Regions from separate parts of the Homo sapiens genome. Here region 2 is linked to region 1. The links come from fine-mapping of genetic effects on gene expression. A gene starts in region 1. The other region holds a variant in brackets. All regions are shown on one strand. Distances are between the middles of the regions.

Region 1 (9,332 bases):
TTAAAGGGGGAGCAAAGCCATAGGTAAATACGTATATGACGCAGCACGTGTTGATTAGCGCTAAGAAGAAAAAAATCAGGTGGGCATGGTGGTGCATGCCAGCAATTCCAGCACCTTGGGAGGCCAAAGTGAGAGGACTGCTTGAGGCCAGGAGTTCAACACCAGCCTGGGCAACAGAGGGAGACCACATCCCCGGTGCCTCTGACCCCCCCACCGTCTTCTCTAAAAGAATTTTTAAAAATCAGCTGGGTGTGGTGGCACACTTATAGTCCCAGCTACTCTGGAGGCTGAGGCAGGAAGATTACTCGAACCCAGGACTACAAGGCTTCAGTGAACTATGATTGTACCACTGCACTCCAATGTGGGCGACACAGACCCTGTCAAAGAAAGAGAGAGAGCATAAGAAAAAAAGCAAGAAGGAAGGAAGGAAGGAGGGAGGGAGGGAGGGAGGAAGGAAGGAAGGAGTGAGTCAGTTGACACAGAGGGGTGGGTGTTGTGCTATTTTATTACCACAGAAGATGTTTAAGTATAGTGGGTTGAATGTTGGCCGCCAAAACATACGTCCATATATTGATTAAATTTGACAAAATCGTTCCCGGCTGGGTGCAGTGGCTCACACCTATAACTAAATAATCATTTCCAATTCCTTCACATGCTAATTGTCCAGATGCAGGGTACTTCTGGGCAATGCAGAAGCAGCCCCGGGAACGGTTTGTGTGGTTATAATGATGACAGTAAGTCGGAAGCCAGGAGGGAGGTCGGGTCAGGGTCTGGCCTTCAGGCTCCGTGTAGGGAAGCCTTCTTTGCTTGGGTGAATCCCAAAAGGGACAGGGATTCACCAAACATAAGAAGGGGCTTCATATACTGGCAGATGGATCAAAAGATGAGTGTTCACTGCTGGAGGGTCCGCCCATTGTGTGCATTTTAGAGAGATGCGAGCCAGCTCGGAGAGAGGAAGTAACTTGTTCAAGGTTTCACTGTGCCACATGGCTGCGCTGGACTCAAACCCAAGTCTGTTTGAGCTCAGTCTGGCTGCAAGGTCATCTCTGAAACAAATTCACCAGGTCGGTGCACTAGGACTCTAGCTCAGGCAGCCAGGGAGAGGGTGATGCTGTAAATAGAGCGATGAGGGAAGGGGCCCCTGTGTGGAAAGGCAGTGAGTCAGCCAGGAACATGCTGGGGGCTGGGGAGGGTCCCACCAGCAAGGCGGACAAGCCCAGGAGGCGGTTCTGGGCCTTGGAGAAAAGCTGGGGTAGGGGAGAGATATTAGGTGTCCTTCCATTTTCATGTTACTTAACAGCTACTGGAGTGGAGGAGACTGCCCTAGTGGTATGCAGAATGATAAGAAAGGAGGTATAAGAAAGGAGGGATAAGAAAGGAGGGAATGGGAGGGACAGAGGAAGAGGGGGTCCTGGAGATGGGCAGTCAGAGCTAAGTAGTGGGGGCTTCAAGGAGGGATGGTCGTGGGTGCTGGTATTTATTGAGTGTTTGCTGTGTGCCGGGTACCCTCTGTGTGGATTCACTTACCCCTTCACCGCAACCCTCTGAGGCAGATACTATTATTATTATGCCCACTTTACAGATGAGGAAACTGAGAGGCTAAGTAATTTACCCACATCAGTGAGCTAATCAGCCAGTGTGCTTAATCACCGTGCTCCCCTACTTCTGGTGACATTGCTGATGACGTTGTTGATTTTCCATGGACTGGGTGGAGGGATAGAAGTGAGGAACAAATTTGGAAGCAGGAGACAACCACACCTCTGATCTGGTTTGGCCCTACAGGGATAGGCAAGCGGAACAAGGCGTTATTCCTCTGTCTTTTCCTGCACTAGGAAGCCGAAACCCTCAGAAGGTCAGGGCCTTGCTCAAGGTCAGACCATGGGGCTATGCCAGAGGCTTGAACTCTCTTTAGGCCTGGAATGATGTTACTACCCCTAAGAGAGGAGAGCCACTGAGAGGAGAGGCTGTCAGAATGCGGGTGCAGGCCTGGGGTGGTTAAGAGAGAAGGCCATGATGTGGGCCACCTTGACTGACAGCATCTGAACTGAGATGCCTAGTTAGTATCCCAAGTGAGGGTCTTGGTCCCATGGGGAGGCAATGGGGAGATTATCTGGTCAGGGTTTTATCTTGGCCTCATTCATTTAAAAGTCATCTCAGGATGGATTTTAATGATACTGTGTGGCCCAGTAGCAAGCACAGGGCTAAAATGAAATCCTGGTGCTGCCTTTTAGTAGCAGTGTGGCCTGTGCAAGCCACCTAAGTCTCCAGAGAAGCCTTGGCTTCTGTGGCTGCAAAATGGGGATCATCTCTTCCCTGCCTGGTATTGTGGGAGTTAAGGACAATGTGAGCAAAGCACTTGGCATGCACCTGGGGGTCAGTAAACAGGAGCTGGCATTGCTCGTGTCAGGTGACAGGTGAGGATTTGTATATCATTTATCAAAGTGTAGCTTCATTGAAATTTTGTTTCTAAATCTCTCTCTCTCACACACACACACACACACACAGGCACAGAACAAAGGAGATTTTTGAAATCTTCCTGCCCAAGTCCCTTGTTGTGCAGATGGGGAAACTGAGGCCCAGAGAGGGAGATTATGTACCCAAGATCACAGAGTCGAAGAGGCCTGGCCCCTGCCTGCCGTCAGTCCGTGTGCCACACGACATCACAAAGCATCCCGGACCCAGCCTCATCCCTGCTGTTCACTAAGCATACACATTACACAATCACTGCCCCAGATGGCAGCTGCTAGAATCCTCGCTAGCATCGAACATCCAAGTCAGAGGGCACTCAGAGTCGTCAGCTTCCTCCAGCATTGCCTTACCCGGCTGTAGGGGTTAAAAAGCTGTGGCAGGTGCTCCTGAGACTAGAGAAATGAAATGAATGATCTCAGACATACACAGGAGACAATGGTTTCTTCTCAGAAAATGCTGAAGGGGGAGTCTACCGCCTCCACACCAACCCTGCCTTAACGCAGGAGTCCTCTGGCCTCATTTGCATTCCCTAGGGATCTTAGCCCACAAGAGGGAGAAAGCTACTGTTCTCCTGAGTTTAAGTTGGCTGATCTCTACCCGGGAGCCTGAAGGAAGGTCGTAGGCAGCGTGGCACACTACAGGGGGTAAGGGGCTCATGCAGAAGAGCCCTGTTCCTGATTGCTCAAGGGAAGGTGGGATTGTTTTCTCCCTGATGTGCACTCTGACTACATCACAGATGATAGTTCAGTCCTGCACCTACAAACTGGCAGGCTCCGTGCTGGGCTCTGGGCATATGAAAATAAGCACCACAGGCAAAATGCCTGCTCTTGTGAGATACAGGTCTTGAGTGAGGAGGCTGAGATGAATGAGGAAACAAACATACAAACGAGATGATCTCAGATACTGATAAGAGCTGTGAATAAAGAAACAAAATATAGCAGTGGCATCATGACTGGGAAGGTTGGCTACTCCAAACTGGGCATCTAGATGTCTCTGGGCAGGTGACATCGTAGCAGGGCCTTTAACAAGAAGGAACCAGCCACGCAGAGGTCTGGGGAGGGAGTTCCTCACAGAAATCAGCAGATGCAAAGGCCCTAAGGTTGGAGTCAGCTGAGACTCCTAGGATTTTTATCAAAATAATTTGGAGGACAGGAGGCTATTTTGTTAAGAAAACAAAGTAAACAAGACACTTTCTTTCCCTAATCTGTCATCTTTCCCCACCAGCTCCAAATCCTATTAATACAAGATAATTCCTACTTAAAAACCTCTTCTTCCAAGAAGTCTTCAGGTTCTACTAGTTCATGGTAGAACTAGTATAAAAACTGGTCTGTGGCAAAGTAATAAAAAAAAAGGTCAATAAACTCTGTGTGTGTGTGTGTGTGTGTGTGTGTCACTATACAGGTGCCAACCGTGTTTCCTTTCTTCAGAACTGAGATATACTGTTATTACTTTTCAAAAAATTTTGCTGTTAATACTCTTTTGTAAAATATGATGTAGATGACAGATATGTCACCAATGTAGCAAAAATCAAAAGCTGACCATCCTTTGCAAATCCCCCATACTTTGGTCTGTGAAATCCTGGAGCCTGGAGGCACCTGTGAACTAGGCTCTGAAGCTCTGCTACTCTCCCCTCCTCTACTCCCAAGTGGCCCTGGATTTCCCATACCCTTTCCATTCTCGACACTGTTTTTAGAGTTTGAGTTCCAGGAGCACAGGGACTGTGCGTTCCCGGCACTGAGCCAGGTCCACAACAAGCACTCAGAAGAAACTGACTGAATGAACGTGTGATTTATGACGATATACATTCACCTGAGCGAATGCTCAGAGAATACAATTAGAAGCAAACTGGTTAAGGGAGACAGTAGTGTAAAGGAAACGAAACCCCATATTTCAGAGCCAGGAGCCTGGGTTCACATTCTGTCTCCTGCAAGAGGTGGTTTAGCAAGGTCAGAAGGCCCTGTCCACTCGGTAGCAGCCAGGCTTGGGTGAAATCACTTTCTTTCAGCCTCAGCTTCCTCACCAGTTAAATGCGGATGACAAAGATTTGTCCCACGATTTTTGTAAAGAACAAAAAGATATGTTCGCAGAAAAAACACTCTGTAGATAGTACGTAAGCGACAGTTCCTCGGTTTGTCCTTCCATGGATGCATGGAGCATCTAGCCAACTCAGCAGATGACCCCTCTCCAGTGTTTCAGCATCTGCTTCTCCCACAAGCCCGTGAGCTGGTGCAGGAAATTCTCCAACAGGTTCTGAACAGAAAAGCATAGTGCCTGGCACCTAGTGGGTGCTGCATAAATGAACAAATGACCCCAGGTAAGTCACTCCTCCCATTGGACCTCTTTCTTCTAAGTAATCTCCCTTCCTTTTCCAGGTCCATGATACTTATTTGCTTTTTTAGAACAGGCCTAGGAGTCACATTTAGGGAAGGTAGGTGGCTGTGAAGACACTTTGATTAAAAGGTTAATGCACATTTTTGGTTTCCACTTTCGAAGCTTCCAGAATTTATTTTTGCCTAGTTAATAAAAAAAGAGCCATGTCACATTTCTTTAGCTTGTCTTCTGGGTTCCTTAACAACAACAACAAAAAATTAAAGTCTTTATTTTAAGCCGCCTACTCCAGCCATCCCAGGACGCGGCGAGGAGGGGGCGCGGACAGGTGGCGCGCGAGCCCGGGAAGGCGGGGGCTGCACCGGGCCGCGGGCGGGGCCGTGCACGCCGAGCCCCACTTCCCCAGCGCGGGCCGGGGGCGGGGCGCGGCGGCAGAGTTCGGGGGCTTCTGCCGAGGGCAGTCCCACGTGCCCCTCCGCGGGAGACGTCTCCTCTCCGACGCCCAGCACGCTGGGGGGCTCCCGCTTCCTGCCTGCCCTCTCTACTGCTTGCCCTCTCACCTCCCAGCGGCTTCCGCCGCCCCGGCCAAGCTGCACGGCGCGTCCCGGGCCCTAGACCCCCACCCGCCAGGCACCAGCCCCGGCCTGTCCCCTCGCGCCGTCAGCCCGCGGCCCACCGCCCGCGCGCGCCCGCAGCCCAGCCGGAGGGAGGGGCAGGGGCGGGGACCGGCCGGCGCTGATGTAATCCCGGCACCCGGGCGGAAGGATATGGAGCGCGCCCCTGGTTGGCGGGGCGCTGAGGCCAGTTGCCGGGTAACGGAGCGGAGCGGCTCCCGGCGCGCCGCCTCCCGCCCTCCGCGGAGTGGCGCTGGGGCCGCCGCCGCCGCTTTACGTAAGGCGCAGGCCAGGGCCGCCCGGCGCTCGGCAGCCGCCCGCAGCCCCTCGGAGCCAGAGGAGAGGCGCCCCCGCCGGCCGCCGCGCCGCCCGGCAGCCTCGGCAGGTACTGCGGGCAGGCGGCGGGGAGGGAGGGCGCGGAGCAGCCCCTCGGCCGGGTGGGCGCGGGCCGGGGAGGCCGGACGCTCGCCGCCGTGGGGCTCCGGGGCCAGCCCGAGGGAGGCCGGGCCGCAGCCGAAGGCTTCGGGGTCAGCCCAAGGGAGACAGGGCCGCCGCCGTGGGCTCTGGGGCCAGCCTAAGGGAGGCCGAGCCGCCGCCGAGGGCTCCGGGGCCAGCCTGAGGGAGACCGGGCCGCCGCCGGGGGCTCCGGGGCCAGCCTGAGGGAGGCCGGGCCGCCGCTGATGGCTCCGGGGCCAGCCTAAGGGAGACCGGGCCGCTGTTGATGGCTCCGGGGCCAGCCGAGGGAGGCCTGACCGGCCCCGATCCTGGTGGTGCCCGGGCGTGCGGGTGAGCTGTGGGCCCTGGGACCCCCGCCCCGACCCCAGGACGCCGGGACACCAGCTTGCGGCTCTTGCGCCCGGGTGGGCTGTGGACGATGAGTCCGCACAATGGGTTGCCGTTGGCTGCCTCCTGCCTGGGGCAGGTGTCGCCGCGCCGGGGCGGCTCTTCTAGGGGAGACGAGGCGGGGGTGCTTAGACTTGATAGGACGTAGAGCCCCGAAAGTGGGCGCGGGAGGAAGGCTTCGGCCGGTGGGAGGCGCCCGGCGTCCCCGGCAGCGGGGTCAGGCCGGCAGCCTGGGCCGCTCGCTCGCGTTCCCTCCGTTCCCCTCCCCTCCAGCATTGTCCTTTTGGGGCCCCGGGAAGGGAAAACCGCCGGGCGGGGGAGGAGGGCCGCAGGCGGGCGGGGCCGGGAGGCCGGCTGAGCGACTGGCGCGCCGGCCTATGGCGCGGGGCGCGGCGCGGGGGGCGGGCCTGGCGGGCGGGGCCGGTGCGGCGCAAGGTTTGGCGAAGGTTACAGCTGGAGCTAGGAGTGACAGGCCCACAGTCATCCGTGCGCTGCGCGGCAAACCCTGTCGCGAGGGCGCCCCGAGTTGCTGCGGGGCCTGATCCGGCTCCTTTCCAACAATACGCGTCTGCAGCCGGCATTTCTAGAGCTCTCTGCTTCTTCCCGCTGGAGAAACCAGTGTGTGTCGTGTTGGAATGCTTCGTCTTGCCCTAGAATTCAGCTTGCGTCTTGTGGTGCGCAGGTGACAGGACCTGCCGAACTCTTGGTACAGACCCCTAAATCATGGCAGAACTGTCTTGATTTCTTTTTTGCCACCTTTCCGTTTTTGTCCTCTATAGGCAAGCTATAAAGATTTAACCCAGTTAAAAACAGGAGGGAGATTCAGCGGAGAGGAGGCATGCGAGATTCTTTGGAAAAAATTATATAAATGTAGTTCTTGCTAATAATTACCTGGGTTGGATACTTTGACTTACTGTTCAAGTTCCTAAGAAGGGATTTTACATTTCTGGGTCTTGTTTTAAAAACTGTTAGAAAGCTCGTGAGGGGGTAGGGACAAGCAGTTTTGGTAATAGGCGATGCTGTGGATAAAACTGTGCGGTAAAATGCCCAAGCTAGATTCTTCCTATGCAAAATAAGACCCGTTCCAGAACACTTTGACCATTTCGTGGACTTAGAATTTAAAGGCGGGTGAGGGCGGGGGGGGAGGAGGAGCGGATTCTATCACTCTGCATCCTCAAGGTCAAATATTCTTCCATCAGTTATTTTGGATTGAACCATTCTTAAATAGGTCTCAGGATCTCTATGTCGCTTCCTTATGACAGAACCTATTTCCGAGAGTGTGCCTTTGCATATCTATAGAAGCTCCTTTCACTTAATATATCTTATAACTCAGATTCAATTGCTGTACTTGCTAAATAATGCATTTTTAATCATTCAAAAAGTGGTTTACAGCTTCCTTGGGTATAATGGTTTTTATGTAAGCCCGTTACATCAGTGAAATGCCAGTTTTTAAACATTGAAGGGAAGGGAGAATATTATTCTTATTTATTTCCATAGGAAGTAGAATTCAAAGTGCAGGTGCTTTTTTGTTTGCTTTGGAGAAAAAGTATAGGTCTTTAACATGACGTTAACAGAAGTCAAATCTAAGGATAATTAGCTTGTTATGCAAGTTGCAAACATTTAAGAAGATCAGATGAATTTTTTTTTTTTTTTTTTTTGAGACGGAGTCTCGCTCTGCCGCCCAGGCTGGAGTCCGCGATCTCGGCTCACTCACTGCAACCTCCGCCCGCCGGGTACAAGCGAGTCTCCTGCCTCAACCTCCCGAGTAGCTGGGACTACAGGTGCATGCCACCACCCCCGGCTAATTTTTTGCATTTTTAGTAGAGATGGGGCTTCACCGTGTTAGCCAGGATGGTCTTTCTCTCCTGACCTCGTGATCCGCCTGCCTCAGCCTCCCAAAGTGCTGGGATTACAGGCGTGAGCCACCGCGCCTGGCTGATTAGATGGATTTTTAACACTTCCAGTGGTAATATAGGGTAATGTAGCTAGCCTACTCTGTGCTATGTTGTACGGTAGCACTCTTCAAAAGAAATTAGATTGTTCTTGTTCTTTATTTTTCATTGTGTGGAAAAGTGCTGAGCCTGCGCTTTGTCCTTGTTTTTGTAGCATTTGACTTGGCAGTTAATGGCTTGTGAGCTAATTTCCTCATCTGTAGAATGGGAAGATTGATGACACCTGTTTCACAGAATAGTTGGGATGATCACTTGAGGGAAGACGTGAAATGTCGTCAAGACTCAAACCCTTTAAAAATACTCGCCTAGTGTAAGTGTTAAAACCTCAGATTACTTGCTTTGCTTAAAGTTTTTAACTTTGTCTTCAGGCTCCTCGCCACCCCTTCCTATCCATTCTTTGCCTGGCTGCCAGAGTCATCTTTCCTGAGCTCAGATCTTGTCAGTCTCTGGCTCAGTAGGCTTCTAAGACTGCCTGTGGTTTGGAGCTTAGAATTCAGAGATACCAGCATCACAATGCAGGCCCCTTGCAGTCTGGCCCCCAGTCATCTCTGTACTTTATCTTGTCCTCTTTGTCCCCTTTCCACACTGTCCAGCTAAACAAGACTGCTCTTGGTTCTCTGAACATGCCAAGCTATTTCAGACCTTCTTTGCTTATATTCTTTTCTCTTATTGGAATGTCCTGTCTCACTCCCACTCCCTCCAGTTCTTAAAAGTTCATATCAAATATTCTGTTCTCTCTGGAGTCCTTTGGAAGTCCTATTACAATGAATTATTCCTTTCCTCAATCATAGTTCTCTATTTTTCCTTCATTATTGTCTATATCATGTTGTATTATAAATTGGTCATAGTAAACTCTGGCTGTGGTGTCTATCCTATCATTTTGCCCCCAACACCTTGCTCAGGCGTTTAAACATAAGTGCTTAATGTTAAATGTAAGTGTTTAAATGTTTGCTAAATAAAGTCAAAGTCTGTAATCAACCTTAAAGAGTATGTTAATATTATAAAGTATATTTATTTTTATTTTTTCTGACCCTGGCTTAAGTCTGCAAATAAAGTTTGTTTGTTTTTGAGACAGCATCTTGCTTTGTCACCCAGGCTTGGAGTGCGGTGGTGTGATCGTGGCTCA
Region 2 (10,361 bases), 73 kb after region 1:
CATCTGTTTTCGAAGATGGAACTGTCAGGATTAGATGTGGGGTAGAGATAAGGGGAGGAGACAAGGAAGACAGCCAAGGGTTTTGATCTGAGCAACTGCAAGAATATAATTCCTGGCCCGGCACAGTGGCTCATGCCTGTAATCCCAGCACTTTGGGAGGCAGGCAGGTCACTTGACGTCAGGAGTTTGAGATCAGCCTCGCCAACATGGCAAAAACCTGTCTCTACTAAAAATATAAAAATTAACCGGACGTGGTGGCGCCCACCCATAATCCCAGCTACCTGGGAGGCTGAGACAGGAGAATCACTTGAACCCAGGAGGCAGAGGTTCCCGTGAGCTGAGATCGTGCCACTGCACTGCAGCCTGGGCAACAGAGCAAGACTCCATCTCAAACAAAGAAAAAATTAGCCGGATGTGGTGGTGCATGCCTGTAGTCCCAGCTACTCAGGAGGCTGAGGTGGGAAAATTGCTTGAACCAGGCGGTGGAGCCAAGATCACGCCACTGCACTCCAGCCCAGGTGACAGAGCGAGACTCGGTCTCCAAAAAAAAAAAAAAGTAATTTCTATTTACTAAGGAAAAGGAACCTAAGGAAGGAACATCTTTGTGGTATGAATAAGGATTAACATATGAGATGCCTCCTAGGAGACAGCTAAATGGAGATTTTTGAACAGGCAGCTGAATAAACTGAATATGCATGTCTAGGGTTGGTGGGGTAGAGTGGTTTATGAGGACCAGGCAAGAAATAGCCCATTTTCTTTTTGTTAATCTAGCCCAGATCTTCTGATCTCTTTTTAGAAAAGGTAGAAAATTGGGATTTTTTAACAGGAAGTTTTCTGATCTTTCAAATGTTGAAAAGTGAGAATATGAGAGCAGACACAGAAGTGGAAGGGGCTGCTGTAAAAATCTGAGAGTGAGGCACTATAAAATAGACATGCGTGGGGTTAGGGGCTGGGGTATGAAAACAGATTAAGAGTTTGAGGACCAGAAAGGGCCAAATGATGGCCCAGTGAATCCCTGTGTGCCCACTGAAGTTGAAGAAGCCAGGTGTTGGGGGCACAGCTGGAGACCCATGTACGCTTTCCTAATGACTTTCCTGGTCATCCCTCTCAGGTCACCATCATACCCCGCTTGGTGTTTGTCTTTCCCATGCTTATTTTCGTATGTTTACTAAATACTGTTTGAAGGTGTACACAAATACAGCATGATTTTGCATTTTCTTAAACTTTCTATAAATTATACCATACTCTATATATTTTTGTAACTTCTTTTAGTTAAAAATTTTAAAATTTTTTCTATATTGTTAACATGATCTTATAATGTCTTCATTCTTCGTTCCTAAGTAGTTCTCCATTGTGAACTATGTAACACTGTTTATTCTCCTGGTAATGGGCCTTTCAATTGCTTCTCATTTTGGGCTATTAATAAAGAAAGTAGAAAGGAACATTCTTTTTTTTTTTTTTTAGACGGAGTCTCGCTCTGTGCCAGGCTGGAGTGCAGTGGCGTTATCTCAGTCAGCTCACTGCAGCCTCTGCCTCCTGGGTTCAAGCGATTCTCTGCCTCAGCCTCCCGAGTAGCTGGGACTACAGGCACATGCCACCACGCCCAGCTAATTTTTGTATTCTTAGTAGAGACGGGATTTCACCATGTTGGCCAGGATGGTCTCGATCTCTTGACCTCGTGATCCGCCCACCTCGGCCTCCCAAAGTGCTGAGATTACAGGCGTGAGCCACCATGCTCGGCCGAAAGGAACATTCTTACCTGCTTATCCTTGTGCGTATGTACAGTACTTTTTCTTGCATGTATACTTAGGCATCAGATTCCTTGACTGAAGTCAGTGTTTTTTTGTAACTGTCAGCCTTATAGACTGGAGTATTTGATGAAAGCTATGGCCCTAACCAGAATGTTATACTTAAACTTTTCTTATATGAATTACTTTGTTACATGCCCATTAGTGGCCTCCTTAAGAGTTCATCCTTCCTAGATTAAAAATAACTGGTCTAAGTTGTGACTATTCTTCTTAATTGAACCATGAAGTGAAACAAGTAGTATCCAGACATTCAGCTCATAGCTTTCTGAGCTTCTGTAGCCAAATATCCTTCAGGAAGTTTACTTGTTAGATATCTAAAGGGAAAAGAAACTGCCATCTCCATATGAAAGTAAGAAACAGGACTTTTTTGCATATCATAAAAAATAGGGTTTGCCTGGGTGCGATGGCTCATGCCTGTAATCCCAGCACTTTGAGAAGCTGAGGCGGGTGGGTTGCTTGAGCCTGGCAGTTTGAAACCAGTTTGAGATGGGGTTTTGCAGAAACCACATCTCTGAAAAAAAAACAAAAGAAAAGCCAAGTGTGGTGGCACACGCCTGAGTCCCCAGCTACTTGGGAGGCTGAGAAGGTGGGAGCAACACGTGAGTCCTGGAGGTCAAGGATATGGTGAGCTGTGATCATACCACTGCACTCCAGCCTGGGTGACAGAGCAAGATCCTATCTCAAAAATTAAAAAAAAAAAAAAAAAAAAGCGGGGAGGGGTTTGCCTAAATCAGTAAGGTGCTATAATGAACTAAGAAAATTGAAGGACTTAATTCAAGTTGAAGTATTTTCCTCTTTTTGTAAAATGATGAAATGGAGGCTCAGAAGTTAAATAACTTGTCCAGCTTCACACAGCACAGCAGGTCTCGTAAGTCCAGATCATGTTCCCTTTATGTTACATCACCCTGCTAAAGAGCGGGGTTACCTTTTTCTAAGCCTCGATTGGTCATATTATTTAATTATTATAACAGTTTGATATCCTCTATTTTTTGTTGAAAACTTTAACCTTCTTTTTTTTTCAGCATTCTAAAGAGTATATAATCTGTGCCCTAGATCATGTTTGAAGATATTTATCCATTGGATACTTCTCTCCTACTCTGTATCATTTTCTAGAGAGCAAATGTGCATGAGAGCTGGAGACAGGCCAATTTTTTTAGACCATTCCGTGTTCAAGGATAGGAATCACAGCTCTCATACAGGGGCCTTGGCAGAAACAGCTTTTTATTTAGAGGAGTTTTTTTTCACTTTGTATTGCTTCTCTGGCTATTGAAGGCATGAGTTTGTGACCCCTGGCACATA[T/C]TCTCAGTCTTCTCAGTTGGTGCTCTTTTGCTTATTTGCTTAACATTAATTTAATTCTAAATTTTAAAAAGGTTTTTAAAACTTCCAGTCATTAAAGTATGGAATTGATCCTTTGCTTTCCAGTGAAACGATTACCATGATCACCAGTAGTCATTCTATCAGTATCTAGTTGGGTTTCCTACCACTAATCTTCCAACTCTGCTTTAAAGCTAAAGACTAAGATCTGAAAAACTGTAAAAGAGCTCCATGTGCAGGGCTGGGCTGAAAATAGGAGTGTTTGAAAGCCTGTGCTTCAGTTATTGCTACATGACTAAGTACCCCAAAACTTAGTGGCTTGAAACAACTATTTACCCACAATTCTGTGAGTTAGCTAGGGCTCAGCTGGGAGGTTCTTCTGCTGTTCTTGCTTGGGGTCTGTGATGGCAGGTGGAGCTGAAACATCCAGGATTGCTTTCCTCATGTGACTGGTGCTTCAGCAAGCATGGCTGGGAGCTGTGACCTTTCACCACATGGCAGATGGAGAACACTCAGAAGGTAGCATTCCAGGAGGGCATCTGTCACACTCGGCAACATCTTATTGTGAAACCCAGTCACTGTGGGAGGGGCCCAACCTAGGGGCAAGTGCAGGGAGGCACAGTTCATTGGGGGCCCCAGAGTAACAGCCTTTCCTCTGACAGTTACTTTCTGGAGAGATTAAGTAGACAGCTTCTGGACTTTGGGATACTAGGCACCCCTGAGGCAAAGCATGAGACACCATAATGAAAATTGGGGACTGACTGATTCCCCCATCCCTTTCTGGTGCCTGACTGACAAATAGGTTTATCTTCCAAAGATAGAAGTGTGGAAGATTTCTTAACGAGGAAGAGGTTGCTGGAAAGAAGAAACATTTGAGGGATGAGATGATCCTTTAAAAATTATAACCATGATAATAGAAATGAAAAACTCAATAGACGGTTTGGAAGGCAGCTCTGGAAATCTTCCAGAAAGTAGAACAAAAAGATGAAGAAATGGTAAACAGGTGACAAAAGAAATTAGGGGACCAGTACAGGAAATTCAGTAACCAGCTATTAGGAAATGTGTCCATAATACTAGCACCCTTTTCCAGATGTAGAAACTGAGGCTTTGATAGGTAAATGATTTATGTAGGGTCATGTGGTTAACCCTGGGGTGAAATTTAGAACCAGATCTCTTTGACTCCATTGAGCCATGTGCAAATGGAACAGGCAGTTAACACTGAGTATCATGTAGGTTAGTGATCACACTATGGCGGCACCTGTCCAGCATTTAGGGAATATCCAGTCTAAATGAACCCTCCATAAAAGAGAAACCTGTAAGATGATTAATATGGCACAGAAACCTTTGAGTATGGAGAGGAGAGATGAGGCAGAATAAGTCAAATTGCCTTTCTTTTACTTTACGCTTAATAACTAAGGTCCAAGTTGAGAAGGATGGGAAGTATGGAGAAGATGGAGAAATACTGGAAATGTTGTAGGGATGGGAAGTGATAGGAATTTGTCAGGGAACAAATAAGACCCTCATGAAGTAATAGGACACCAGTTGCTGTGTTTGACCAAGGCTCAGTCTCCATCATCATTTAACTCTTCAACCCCACCCCACAGCCAGGAGCAGAGAGTGTAGCAGTAGCAAGAACCTAGCGTTGGTCAGAGAGAGAAGGAGCAGGCCATGAAGTCCAGGGAGAATCCAGAGGGGTTTTGGTGGTATGCATTAGGTTAATTATCTTTTTACTCCTCCAACCTCAAAATCAAATCATAGCAAAAATTAAAGACATTTTTGAAGTGATGAATCAAAAAACAAGATTGTAGAAAATTAAAGACGTACAAAATCTAGAAATGACACCAACATTTAAGTGACTAAGGTGACAGGGACTCTGGATGCCTCACATGTGTCATGTTAGCTTTTTTTTACTGAATCTTGGGAGGGAAGTGGTGGCATTCTTGGGTCCAGAAAGAGGAAGTGGCACACATGCCCTTTGCTGCCCAGTGAATGTAGCAGGGCAAGAATTCAGACCCAGGCCAGCATGACTCCAAGCCCCAAACCCAAATACATTCCACTGAGTCCTCTTCTCAGAGAAATTAGAGTGATTATCATGTAAATCTCAGGAGGACAGGGGTCGTCATAACCATTTGTTCACTGGGTGCGTGAATGAGCCAGTGCATGGTAAACTAGTGGCTGGCTGTCCATGCATTCTGAGGGTTGCTCACTGAGCGTGTCCTGAAACTTGCCAGCGTCTGTATGTGGCTCGCCACTTTGCAGGTTTGGAGTACTGTAATTTGAATTTTAGAGTGCTCTTAACGGTTTGCAGAGTGTTTTACATGTGTTGGATACTGGAAGATGGGTGGATATTATCCATTTTACAGTTAGGAAAAGCAATTCATGAGTTCAGTGGTGGAATGGTAGCATTTTTTTCACCTATAGCTTGTGCTTCCTTAGAGTTGTTATTAAGATATAACTTAATCTTTCTTTGTTTTTTAAGATACTATAGGCTCTCAAAATATTATTGAATGGCCTTATGGATATGCTATGCTACTGAAATTTGATTATTAATATTTTCTAATGGTTTATATAATTGGGAAAGTGAATAAAAATTTCTCATTAAAACTGTAAATTAACACTTTGGAACACCTGCCAGGAGACAACAAAGGGTGATGACAGCTTCTGCTGTGCCTCTATGCTTCCCAGCTTGCTGTGATGGTGACCCAGGGTTCTCATGATTTTTTATTTTTTATTTTTTATTTTTTTTTATTTTTTTGAGACCGAGTCTCGCTCTGTTGCCCAGGCTGGAGTGCAATGACGCGATCTCAGCTCACTGCAACCTCCACCTCCTGGGTTCAAGCAGTTCTCCTGCCTCAGCCTCCCAAGTAGCTAAGATTACAGGTGCCTGCCACCACGCCCAGCTAATTTTTTTTGTATTTTTAGTAGAAACGGGGTTTCACCATGTTCGCCAGGCTAGTCTTGAACTCCTGACCTCAAGTGATCCACCCACCTTGGCCTCCCAAAGTGCTGGGATTACAGGTGTGAGCCGCTGCGCCCAGCTGATTTTTTAAAAAAATATATAAGATGCTACAGGTAGTCAAGAAAAGAACAGAAAAACCTGGTTGGTAGAGCTTGCTTTTACACAGAGAGTAAGGAGTAAGCTCTTATTTTGCTGTTTAAACATGAGAGCAAAAAAAATATATGTTTATATATGACAGCAAATATATATATATCACTCATATAGTATACATATTTACTCATATATTAATAAATATATGTGTGTATATGTAATTAATTTCTAAGACAAAGCATGAAAAAATACGTAGTCACTAGGTTGTAATGACCATTCTGATTAAATGGGACCCCATTTTAGAGTATTGGAAGACGTTTAATAAGTGATCCCTAGAGGTTCAGTGTTCTGCATTGCGAGACTAGCCCTAGGTTTAGAAACCTAGTGACATAGGCTTGCTGTACAGAACAGTATGCAGTGTGTCAGCTGACACTGGTGTTGGTTTCACGATCCGAAGGAAATGGAATATAATTGCCGTCCTTGTCACACCTTGAGCATTATGGTAAGCAGGTGCTTTCTGGTGCAACTGTTTGTGGTTGAACAGTGTTTATGACTAATATCTGCCATCGTTTTTAAGAGTGTTTTTAAAGGAAAGGGCAACTCTTGTCTGGCCTATTTTTCTATCTTCCTATTAAAACCTGTGGTATGACGTGGACAGAATGTAACTCTAGATGTTTACAATTAACTGTTTTCATTGTAATCTGTTTCTTGCTACTCAAACTGTGTAACCGTGGGATTTCTTATGTAGGATATCTATAATATTTGTGCTGAGTCATTTTGAGTTAAGTGAATGGGGTAAAGTTCTATTTTTAGCCCGTCAAGGCCTAGTGAGGGCACTGGCTTAGCAGAACTCTCCATCACGCGCATCTGTTTGGGTTATGCCCACCAATAAGGACTTGATTCCAGTTTAAATAGGACTTTGGTCACTGAATAAATCTAAAGTTTCTGAGAAATACATTGACTTTTTTTGTCCACTGTAAAAAAATTTTTTTTTCTTCCTGTGAGAAATTGAGACTCTTAAAAGTTAAAGTCTACTAATGAAAGATTATTTGCTTGTGCCTGTTTTCTACATTCATTTTTCTTTAAAGGTTGACTCTTATTTTTACCCTCCCAAATCCAGACTCTTCTATGTACTCTCCTTAAATTTTAAACTCCCAAGCTTTGTATAGAAGTCGATAATCTGGTCCAGATGCTGAAAAGAAGACAAAGCTTTCACATTTGCAATATTGGCTTCATTTTCTGGACTTCTGTTGTTTTAATCATGAGTGTTCATGTTTCTTTAAAACAGAAAAAAAAAAAATCACCTTGTTTTCTTCAGGGTGTGAGCTCCTAGAGAACTAAGATGAGGTTTTGTGATTTTCCTTTGTTTTAAGTCTGGTATAAGATCTCGCTCACATAAATATTTAATACTCTTTTTGATGGTGACTGACTTTTGGTCGTATGATGGACATTTAGGCCCTTAAATCTGCCCCATGAGCAAGATGACACACCTTTGGAAAAACAGAAGCTATTCTGGGAGGTACATGAATATGTTCACATTTTATCACTAAGTTTCATTTAATATGCCTTATTAGTAATAAGCATGTATACCAATTTGTATCTACAAACCTATAATTTTTAAACTGTAGTATTCACGTAAATATTGGTAAGATATTTATTTTGGAATGTGGATGATTTGTAAAACCTGTGTATTAAAACAAAAGTATACAAATACCTGATTTGTACATACCTGGCTGTAACCTAATGTGTCTTTTTGTTGTCATGCAGAGCTCTGGTATCGAGACTTTAGTGGAGGAGCTCTGCTCCAGACTGAAAGACCTTCAGAGTAAGCAAGGTGAGGTCAAAAGCACTGTGCGCACACATGCCAGGATTACATCCCTGAGGAATCTGGATTGGGGAAAATCTTAGAATTGATCAGAAAAGAAAACAACCAGAACAAAGTCTTTGTGTCCAGTGTGTGTCACTAGGCCAGCCTCATGCTCCATCTGCAGCTCTGTTAGTGGCTTCTGTGTCAGACCCAGCAGTCACTCATAGAGATTCCTGCAACCAAGGGAGGGACTTAGTCCACAGGTGCCCTCAGAGATAGGAAACACTTCATGGTTTTCTGTTTTTTGGGTTTTTTTAATTGTTGTTGGCTTCAAGTTGAAGCTCAGAGATCAGGAACAATATTGTCTCTTTCCTTTCCCCATCCTTGCCCCTCTGTTAATATCTGCCTGTTGATGTTAAGACTGCTAAATTACGACATTAAATTAAGATGTTAAGACATGAATTACTTCAGGTTTGGAAGGGACTTCTGTTTTGACTCAGCTTTTTTGAAAACACAGACTTGGCAAGCTTATTTAGTTATTTCGATATATGAATCCTCCTCATACTTTTTCTAACTTGTTTGCAATCCCTAAGAACGAGACCTTCATATTAAGGGTGAGGATCCTTGTTTCCTTGCCCTCTTTATGGTCATTTTGCTGCCCACCAAGCCTTGAGCCTGCCTCTTAAGGGCACAGTTGATTTGTAACCTAAGGCAGTATCCTAGGCTAAACTAAGGGATAGCCCTTTTTCCTGTTTCAGTTGAAATAGCCCTTGCTCACCTACATGTTAAGTAATAGAGCAAATTGTAATAAAGAATATTCTTTACAGATTAGTTTTGGTCAAGATGAGTCAATGTAAAGTCTATGAGTGTAGAATTTTGTGAGAAAATAGTTTTGGAATCTAAACAGATGTTCTGTCCTTCTGGTCTAATTAATAAGTACACAGGGGACTTCAGTCTCTTAATTAAGTGCCTCTAGAGCACTGTATCAGTGACGAGATGAACAACTCTCACCTCTTGGCCTAATGCTAATGTGGTTTAATCGGAGAATTCCCTCTGGCACACTGAAAAAATAGATTTTTATTAAAAAGATCGGTATTGAGTTTGCCTTTTAAGCACCAAAGTCTCTATTTCTTGTTAAAATTAGTTGAGAAACTTTGAAATACATTAGCATTTATTAACTAGATATAAGACAAATCTTTCTTAATTTTTGTTTCATAACAGAAGAGAAGATTCACAAAAAGTTAGAGGGGTCTCCCTCTCCAGAGGCAGAATTATCCCCTCCAGCAAAGGATCAAGTGGAAATGTATGTAAGATTGTATTCGGTAATAAAGTGTGCATTTGTTAAAATCAGATGAATAACTGCTACATGGTTTCCGTTTTCTGTTTGTCATCTTGTTTAGTTTCATTATATATAATGTAAGAAACATTTATCGAGCGCTTATATGCTTGACACTGAGAATTCAAAGGTGAAACAAGATGGTTCTGTCCTTGGTGTTCATATTCAATATTTGTGGAACAAATGAGTGAAACATAGAAGGTTATTATTTGCTAAGTCTATGTATGTACTATTACCTTTAATATTCACAACAGCCCTTTGAGACAGCTGTGAGAAATTAGGATTATCAGCCGGGCACAGTGGCTCATGTCAGTAATCCCAGCACTTTGGGAAGCCAAGGCAGGTGGATCACCTGAGGTCAGGAGTTTGAGACCAGCCTGGTCAACATGGTGAAACCCAGTCTCAAATATTAGTTGAGCATGGTGGTACATGCCTGTAATCCCAGCTACTCAGGAGACCGAGGCAGGAGAATTTCTGGAACCCGGGAGGCAGAGGTTGCAGTGAGCTGAGACTGTGCCATTGCACTCCAGCCTGGACGACAGAGCGAGACTCTGTCTTATTAAAAAAAAAAAAAAAAAAAAAAACAAGAAAGAAAAGAAATGATTATCCATGTTCACAAGCAAGAACACTGAGTTCCCACTGTTTACTGCAGAGGGAACATAGGCAATCCTTGACCTGCCAAACCTGCTTCCTAAAGATACTTTTATTTTTTTGTTCGTAAATAGTCTTAAAATAATCTGCATTATAAACAGACTTCCCTATTATACATTTTATTTTAATCTTTCGAACCTCTGAAACCTAAGAAAAAAATAGCATTTCCTTGGTTTGTATAGACCTGTATTATCCAGCACAGAAGCTGTAAGCCATGTGTGACTACTGAGCACTTGAAATGGGGCTGGTTCAAACCGTGATGTGCTGTCAGTGGACAATTCTCATTGGATTTCAAAGACTATATATAAAAAAAAGTAAAGTATTAAACATTTTAAAGTATTGATTACATGTTGAAATGATAATATCAGGAGTTTAGTTAAATATATTACTGGAGTG

The links. PIP is the estimated chance that this variant, and not a neighbour inherited with it, causes the effect. A credible set is the group of variants that fine-mapping cannot tell apart.
Region 2: its variant is the best candidate, but not a certain one, in a credible set for the expression of KIAA0232 in whole blood (TOPMed, PIP 0.76).

Annotation. Positions count from the first base shown.
Region 1 is chr4:6,777,046-6,786,377 of GRCh38, forward strand. It overlaps KIAA0232, which reads left to right and starts at 5,682. Exons shown (of 10, transcript NM_014743.3): 1 at 5,682-5,796. RefSeq lists silencers at 5,062-5,941, 6,002-6,771.
Region 2 is chr4:6,849,226-6,859,586 of GRCh38, forward strand. KIAA0232 reads left to right here. Exons shown (of 10, transcript NM_014743.3): 5 at 7,939-8,005; 6 at 9,200-9,281. Among named protein-coding and RNA genes, the nearest start is that of TBC1D14, 55 kb to the right of the region's middle. The variant T/C (reference allele first, on the strand shown) is at 3,108.